Linked DNA regions of Homo sapiens: region 1 is reported to be linked to region 2. The links are microRNA targets in miRTarBase. Many come from high-throughput screens and were not tested one by one. Region 2 holds a microRNA gene; the other region holds the end of a gene's coding sequence.
The links. The annotated mature microRNA hsa-miR-525-5p reads CUCCAGAGGGAUGCACUUUCU and lies in region 2 at 3,110-3,130, opposite strand. An mRNA with a match to its seed (bases 2 to 7 or 8) in the 3' UTR can be bound and repressed. Matches are read on the target gene's strand: a 7mer-m8 pairs with bases 2 to 8, a 7mer-A1 pairs with bases 2 to 7 and ends in A, and an 8mer does both.

Region 1: miRTarBase lists ZNF827 as a target of hsa-miR-525-5p. Seed matches in the 3' UTR shown: 7mer-A1 at 3,162-3,168 and 7mer-A1 at 3,781-3,787.

What each region holds. Positions count from the first base shown.
Region 1 is chr4:145,759,491-145,763,817 of GRCh38, reverse strand. It overlaps ZNF827 (zinc finger protein 827), which reads left to right. Exons shown (of 15, transcript NM_001306215.2): 14 at 696-728; 15 at 2,220-4,327. The coding sequence ends at 711. It also overlaps a transcript of C4orf51 not described here. Among named protein-coding and RNA genes, the nearest start is that of C4orf51, 82 kb to the right of the region's middle. RefSeq lists enhancers at 394-893, 894-1,395.
Region 2 is chr19:53,696,290-53,700,676 of GRCh38, reverse strand. MIR525 (microRNA 525) reads right to left here and starts at 3,144; the gene lies at 3,060-3,144. It overlaps MIR523 (microRNA 523), which reads right to left and starts at 2,292; the gene lies at 2,206-2,292. It overlaps MIR518F (microRNA 518f), which reads right to left and starts at 662; the gene lies at 576-662. It overlaps LOC107985346 (a long non-coding RNA gene), which reads right to left and starts at 7. Exons shown (of 5, transcript XR_001753998.1): 1 at 1-7.

The DNA.
Region 1 (4,327 bases), not on the chromosome of region 2:
CAAGGAAACCAGTAGATGGGAAATGCCTAGGAAGAGCTTATTTGGGGATTTGATTTGGTTTGTTCCCACTGTCCCTTTATAAATATTTGTGTGCTCTCATTTTAAAAAGAGAAACACCAGAACCATGTTTTTCTGTGGTTGGACCAGTGCTCACTGCCCTTCCCAGTAGCCCAGTCACACCCATGAACATTGCAGCCCCTGCCAGTTGTGGCTTTGCCAGTTCGCCTTTCCTCAGGGACCTCCAAAGTCCCCAGCCTCTGAAGCCATTGGGGAGAATGCACAGTGAATTCTGATGCTTTTGCTGGTACAGACACTTCCCGTGCGGTGCTAACCGTCCCCTGTGTAATAGTTTATGTTCTAGGATGACCAAGTAGAAGAATACTTTGAAAAAATTGATAATGCCTTCTGGCTATACAGTGAGTCTTTGTTTTGTTTTGTTTTGTTTCCTTTGCCATATCAGAGAATTAATTTGCCTGAGAGAGTGTCTTTAAGAAAATAACGGGAGCACGGAAAACCCTTAGCACTTTGCCTGAGCAGTGAAAGAAAGATTGAGCTGTGGGTCACAGAAATGTCCTTAAAATGAAACAGACTGCTGATGTCTAAATTGCTTTTCTGTGATGGAACTGCTTGTACTCTATATCCTGTTCATAATGCAGATCAAATAAGATTATACTATTATTTTTCTTTTGCCGTAGCTCAGGACAGTGGTGAGTTTCAGACTCCTCTAGGTAAGGCCCAGCTTGGCGTAGGGGTTGTGTGTGCACCTGACCTGGGAATGGGCTTTATATTTCTCTCGTGTGCACTCTTCTGTGAGCTGAGGTTCAAAGGCTAACGGCGAGCTTGGCGCTGAGGAGGCCGTGCACGGTGCACTTGGTTGTGTTGGGCTCTGCTGAACACCTCTCCAGACCCTCCGAGGACAGTCCACTCCTGAGCCCTGCCCTGCAGGAGCCAAGCAAGAGCTGAGGCAGCCACTTTTGCATCTGCATTCTTTGTGGAAAGAGAGCAAACACACTACAGTTCTCATATAAGCCACTGACTCCAGCCTGGCAGCTTCTAAAAGAGAGGCTCAGCAGAGTTTGTTAACATGGCCTCACCACTCCTCGTGGCCCCTCTGGACAGCCAGGAGGGTTGGTGGTAGCGTAGCCTCACTGCAAAGGATGGAGAAACCGAGCCACAGAGAGGCCCAGGCTAGGGTGTCCAGCTCCAGCCTGACAAGGTGATGGAGCTGGGACCAGCATCCGCCCTTCCAGAATCTACCTAAATTGCCTGTAGAGACCACTCAAATAATGAACCAGTATGTCCTGAGTGCTTACCGTGTGTTAAGTACTCTACCAAGCACTGCAGAGAATGCAGAGGAAATGTAAGATATGGTCCTGCCCTCTGAGAATTTCCAATCCAGTTGGATTATTATCCTATCTCCGGCATAATCATGTATTAATAATGTCTTCGAGCTCCAGATAGCAGTTGTCTCCCTCCCTCCTCCCTTCCTCATTAGCAGATGGGCCGTTGGGTGGGCTTCCTTCTCCTCCCATGCCCCTGCCATAGTCCTCAGCTTCCTTTCCTGACAAAGAGCTAGTCCTGTAGGGAGATATGTTTTACGAGTACATAGATATGTACACATGCACACACTCACACAGAGAGACACACACAGGCCTTCTCATCCTAACAAACCCTTAATAAGCACGATTCTGACCCCTGTGACTTTCTGTTTGCTGGAGGTAGCGCTCCCCCTATAAGCTGTTCTTTAAAACCTCTTAGCCTTTCTGCGTGTGCTTGGTGTGGTGCATGAAAAGTCGATTCTTTGTGTTGCTCCCATCTAGAGGGGAGGTCAGGAGGTTTAGACCTCTGCGCTGTCTGGTCGGGAGTGGGGAGGGCTCCGAGGGGCCGGGCGGGGGCTGGAGGGGAGCACCAGCAAATTGATTCCTGGCACTTTCTCTGCTCCCCTTGGTGAGGGCTGGCCTTGCCTGTATCGGCCAAGAGACCCAGAATAGGCTGAGCGGACCTTGCCAGAGCTGCTTGTCAGCGGGGACTGCTCTGTCAGCAGGGAGAGCCAAAAAGGGCCGTTCCACCCCTGAGAGGCGGCAGGGCTGGGCTGGGCTGGGCAGGCCAGGCCTCAGACACTGGGGGGTGGTGTGAGGGAAGGCTGGTGAGGCGGCGAGAAGCGCGGCTGCCTCCGAACCTTCCCGGCTGAACCTCCCTTGCGTTGCTTTCCCCGGCAGGTGCCCATTCTGCATTTATTCCACCAACCGCCCCGCTGCCATGGAGTGCCACCTCAAGACCCACTACAAGATGGAGTACAAGTGCCGGATCTGCCAGACGGTGAAGGCCAACCAGCTGGAGCTGGAGACGCACACCCGGGAGCACCGCCTGGGCAACCACTACAAGTGCGACCAGTGCGGCTACCTGTCCAAGACCGCCAACAAGCTCATCGAGCACGTGCGCGTCCACACCGGGGAGCGGCCCTTCCACTGTGACCAGTGCAGCTACAGCTGCAAGCGCAAGGACAATCTCAACCTGCACAAGAAGCTGAAGCACGCCCCACGCCAGACCTTCAGCTGCGAAGAGTGCCTGTTCAAGACCACACACCCTTTCGTCTTCAGCCGCCACGTCAAGAAGCACCAGAGTGGGGACTGCCCCGAGGAGGACAAGAAGGGCCTGTGTCCAGCCCCCAAGGAACCGGCCGGCCCGGGGGCCCCGCTCCTGGTGGTCGGGAGCTCCCGGAATCTCCTGTCTCCCCTGTCAGTTATGTCTGCCTCCCAGGCTCTGCAGACCGTGGCCCTGTCGGCAGCCCACGGCAGCAGCTCAGAGCCCAACCTGGCACTCAAGGCTTTGGCCTTCAACGGCTCCCCTTTGCGCTTTGACAAGTACCGGAACTCAGATTTTGCCCATCTCATTCCCTTGACAATGTTATACCCCAAGAACCACTTGGATCTCACATTCCACCCTCCCCGACCTCAGACTGCGCCTCCCAGCATCCCCTCACCCAAACACTCCTTCCTGGCCTATCTCGGACTGAGAGAAAGAGCAGAGACTGTCTGAGGGCAGCCATGTTCTGTACCAAAAACAGAGAGACAAAAGACAAAAAAAAAAAAAAAAACCACAAAACTTAAACACAACCCCAGCAGGTGTATGTTGCTGCAAAACCTACAGACCCCGATGGGTCTGGAACATGTGTACTGTATATCTTTAGTAAGGAATAGAAAATTGGCTCTGTGTGTATACCTATTGCATTGACCTGAAAGCTGCTTTATCCAATCTTCAGAGAGGTGACCTACTGCATACTTCTACCTTCAGAGGCATGCCTCCCCAGCCACCCACTCCCACTCTCAGCCCTTCTCCGTACTTTTCTCTGAAAGGAATCTTGTCTTGTTAAACCCTAAAGAGAGTGTCCTTAATAGCAATCAGCACTTGTAAGCTTATATACTGGTGCATTTGGTTTTCTGTTGGGTGAATGCGGTGTGTGGGCGTTTGTGGATTCTGAAAGAGAAAGCCGTGTGTCGTGTGCCATGACATTTCTATTGCACATTCTTTGTACTGGCTTCTTTAACAGCGATGAACGTTCTTTTCCCTCCTGGGTTGTTCATCCACGACAGTCTCTCCCTGTGCTCCTTCATCACCTTTCCCTCTCTCTTTGATGGCTACAGAGTGGTAGGGCCTGGTGCTTAGTCGATGAAGGAATGGTAGCCATCTACAGTGCTGCTGGAGATTTCCGCCAGAGCGCTGGAGACCTTGCGCTCAGATCTTCTCTGGTGATGAAGAGGCGAGGAATCAAGTGACTGATCTGGAAGAAATATCTCGCAGCACTGCAGCTAACATCACAGAACTTAAGTGTGTTTTGTGTGTGTGCCCACACGTAGACAAATGTGTACGGTGCACACACACAGTGCATCATTTTTTAAGGGCAGATTATATATATATATGAGATGTATTAATTCAGTGGTTACCATTTGTTTGCAGGAAAAAGAAATGTATGGGTGAAAAAATTTATGGTTGATAAATCCAGCCAAGGAGATTAAAAGGGGTTTGGATAAATTCTGGGTATAAATGCTCAGACTAAAAAAAAGAAATGGCAGTTTTGCACAGTGCTATGGTCTTGCACTAGTTTTTGTTTCTCATCTGAAAAAAAAAAAGTAAAATAAAAGGAAGAAAATGTACCTTTTTTATGGAATGAGTAGACTGTATGTTTGAAGATTTAGCCACAACCTCTTTGACATATAATGACGCAACAAAAAGGTGCTGTTTAGTCCTATGGTTCAGTTTATGCCCCTGACAAGTTTCCATTGTGTTTTGCCGATCTTCTGGCTAATCGTGGTATCCTCCATGTTAT
Region 2 (4,387 bases):
TGGGAGGATCACTTGAGTTCAGGAGTTCAAGACCAGCCCAGGCAACATGGAGAAACCATGTCTGTACAAAAAATACAAAAGTTAGCCAGGTGTGGTGGTGCATGCCTGTAGACAGCTATTCAGGAGGCTGAGGTGGGAGTTGGAGGTTGCAGTGAGCCGAGATTGCACCACTGCACTCCAGCCTGGGCGAAAGAGTAAGACTCTGTCTCAAAAATAAATAAAGGAAATTACAAAAATTAGCCGGGCATGGTAGCACATGCCTGTAATCCCAGTTGCTTGGGAGGCTGAGGCAGGAGAATCGCTTTTACCCAGGAGGCAGAGGTTGTAGTGAGCAGAGATCCTGACACTGCACTCCAGCCAGGGCCACAGAGCAAGACTCTGACCCAAAAAAGAGGGCCACTTGAACCCAAGAGATCTAGGTTGGAGAGGGACCACCACACTCCAGCCTGGGCAACAGACACCCTGTATTAAAAACAAAACAAAACAAACATGAAACACCAACATCATCCACGTCTGATTATAAGCATTCTCTGCAAATTTATTACCAAGATAAGCATCAACTTCAACGTTGCTTTTCTCAAAGAGTAATCCTCTAAAGAGAAGCGCTTTCTTTTCTTTTAGACAAGAGAAAGTGCTTCCCTCTAGAGGGTCACAGCATGAGATCTTCTTGCTCCAACACTCTGGGTTTTTTGTTGGAATTTTCCTTCACCCGGTTAAAATGGACACAAAAACAAAGATGCATTTATTGGCCCTGTTTGCATGTTTTCTGGAATCCAGAATATAAACCCCTAAAAGGACCATCTCCAGTTCCTTGCTTCAAAGGATCAGCAGGTTAGCTTTGTTCATCAAAGAGCAATCCTCCTGAGTTTTGTTCTCAAAGAGCAAAAGCAATGCCTCATAGACATATGTACCTTATATTTAACCAAGAGAACTGGGCTGGATTTCTAGAGAAGAGAAATGGATATTGAGCCAGGTGTTCACCAGAGTTCCAGCACAGGGACACACAGTCCCGATGGGAGCATCCAAAATGGAATCTACGATGTTAAAGAATATACATTGTTGTACACACAAACATCCTCCAGGGTAGATCACAGGCTAGGCCCTAAAAACTCCTCAATAAAATTTGAACAGAAACACACAACTACAAGTGGGGCACGGTGGCTCACACCTCTAATCCCAGCACATTAGGAGGCTGAAACTGAAGTATCACCTGAGCTCAGGTGTTCGAGACCAGTCTCGGCAACATGGTGTAAGCCCATGTGTATAAAAAATACAAAACGGAGCCAGGTGTGGTGGTGCATGCCTGTAGACACTAATTCAGCAGGCTTAGGTGGGAGGTAGAAGTCGCAGTGAGCTGAGAGAGATGGCACAACTGCACTCTAGACTGGGTGACAGAGCCAGACCTTATCCAAAAACAAATAAAACATACACTCACACACACACAAACAAACAAAAAAAACCCCAAAGTGATATAAGAGTATTCTCTTCATGTAGAAGAGTATTTTGCACGTATATGGTATTATATATATAAGAATATATAATGGCCGGGCGGGGTGGCTAATGCCTGCAATCCCAGCACTTTCGGAGGCCAAGGCGGGAAGATCACCAGAGGTCGGGAGTTCGAGACCAGCCTGACCAACATGGTGAAACCCTGTCTCTACTAAAAATACAAAAAATTAGCCAGGCGTGTGGTGCATGCCTGAAATCCTAGTTAGTCGGGTGGCTGAGGCAGGAGAATCACTTGAAACTGGGAGGCGGAGGTTGAAATAAGCGAAGATCGCACCACTGCACTCCAGCCTGGTGACAGAGTAAGACTCCATCTCAAAAAAAAAAAAAAAAAAAAGAAAAGAAAAAAGAAAGAAAAATGCAAGTATTAGCCAGGCGTGGTGTCAGGTACCTATAATCCCAGATACTCAGGAATCTGAGGCAGGAGAACGGCTTGAAACTGGGAGGTGGAGGTGGCAGTAAGCTGAGATCACGCCACTGCACTCCAGCCTGGGTCACAGAGTAAGACTCTATCCCAAAAGAGAGGACCATTTGAGCCCAAGAGAGCTAGGTTGGAAGTGCCACCACATTCCAGCCTGGGCAACAGAGATCCTGTCTTAGAAAAAAAAAAAAAACAGAACCCCACCTTCATCCAAGTCTGATGATAAGCATGCTCTGCAAATGTATTAGCAAGATCAGCATCAACTTCAATGCTGCTTTTCTCAAAGGGTAACCCTCTATAGGGAAGCGCGTTCTTTTCTTTCAGACAACAGAAAGCGCTTCCCTCTAGAGGGTCACAGCATGAGATCTTCTTGCTCCAGCACCCTGGGTTTTTTGTAGCAATTTTCCTTGACCAGGTTAAAATGAACACAAAAATAAAGATGCATTTACTGGCCCTGTTTGCATGTTTTCTGGAATCCAGAATATAAACCCCTGAAAGGACCATCTCCAGTTCCTTGTTTCAAAGGCTCAGCAGGTTAGCCTTGTTCATCAAGGGGCAATCCTCCTGAGTTTTGTCTCCAAAGAGAAAAAGCAATGACTACTAGACATACCTTATATTTCACCAATAGAATTTGGCTGGATTTCTAGAGAACAGCAATGGATTTTGAGCCAAGCGTTCACTTGAGTTCCAGCACAGGGACACGCAGTCCTCACAGGAACATCCAAAATGAAATCTAAGATGTTGAACAGGCCTGGCGTGGTGGCTCACGCCTGTAATCCCAATGCTTTGGGAGGCTGAGGCAGGTGGATCACCTGAGATCAGGAGTTCAAGACCAGCCTGACTAACATGGTGAAACCCCATCTCCACCAAATACAAAAACTGAGCCGGGTGAGGTGGCGCATGTCTGTAATCCTAACTACTCAGGAGGCTGAGGCAGGAGAATCACTTGAACCCAGGAGGGGGAAGTTGCAGTGAGCCGAGATTGCGCCATTGCACTCCAGCCTGGGTGACAGAGTGAGACTCTGATTTAAAACAAAAAACAAAACAGAAACCCACCATCATCCAAGTCTTAATTATAAGCATGCTCTGCAAATATATTACCAAGATCAGCATCAACTTCAACGTTGCTTTACCCAAACCGTAACGCTCTAAAGGGAAGCGCCTTCTTTTTTTTCACATAAGAGAAAGTGCATCCCTCTGGAGAGTCACAGCTTGAGATCTTCTTGCTCCAGCACCGTGGGTTTTTGGTTGAAATCTTCCTTCACTGGGTTAAAATGGACACAAAAATAAAGATGCATTTATTGGCCCTGTTTCCATGTTTTCTGGAATCCAGAACATAAACCCCTAAAACGACCATCTCCAGTTCCTTGCTTCAAAGGCTCAGCAGGTTAGCCTTGTTCATCAAGGGGCAATCCTCCTGAGTTTCGCCTCCAGAAAGAAAAAGCAGTGCCTACTACACATACCTTATATTTAACCAAGAGAATTGGGCTGGATTTCTAGAGAACAGCAATCAATTTTAAACCAAGTATTCACTTGAGTTCCAGGACAGGGACACTACAGGACAGACCACAGGCGAGGCCTTAAAAGCTCCTCAGTAAAATTTGAACAGCGGGAGGATCACTTGATCGCAGGAGTTAAGAGTCCAGCCTGTGGAACGTGCTGAAACCTCATCAGTACCAAAAATACAGAACTTACCCAGGGGTGGTGGTGCCTGCCTGTAGACACTAATCCAGGAGGCTGAGGTGGCAGGTGGAGGTTGCAGTGAGCCAAGATCTCACCACTGCCCTCCAGCCTCAGCGACATAGCCAGGCCCTGTCTCATAAAAATTAAAACAAAATACACAAACAAAAACAACTCCAAAGTGATATAAGAGTGTTCTCTGTGTATAGAAGACTATTTTGTGTGTATGGAATTATACACAGAACATTGTGATGAAATATACTCATTTTTTTTTGAGACCCTGTATAAAAAAAAACCAAAGTTCCATATACTATATGCTCACATAAAGCATAATTCCCACATATTGGTGCTTTGACAGCACACACAAATGAATGGGGTGACAGAGATTTCCATAGCCCCCGCACATAGGTGACACCCAAATTCATAATGGGTCCCATATTCAAAATTAGGAAAAAAGGCTGAGTGCAGTGGCTCATACCTGTAATCCCAGCACTTCGGGAGGCCTACGTCGGCAAATCACCTGAGGTCAGGATTCAAGAATGGCCTGGCTAACATGGTGAAACTGTGTCTAAAATACATATATATATATAGCTGGTATGGGGGTACATGTCTGCAATCCCAGCTACTTGGAAGGCTGAGGTTGCAGTGAGCTGAGATCACACCACTGCAGTCCAGCCTGGGAGACACAGAGAGGCTCTTTCTCCAAAAAAAAAAAAAAGAGAATTGCTTGAGTCCAGGAGGCAGAGGTTGCAGTGAGCCAAGATCACACTAATGTACTCC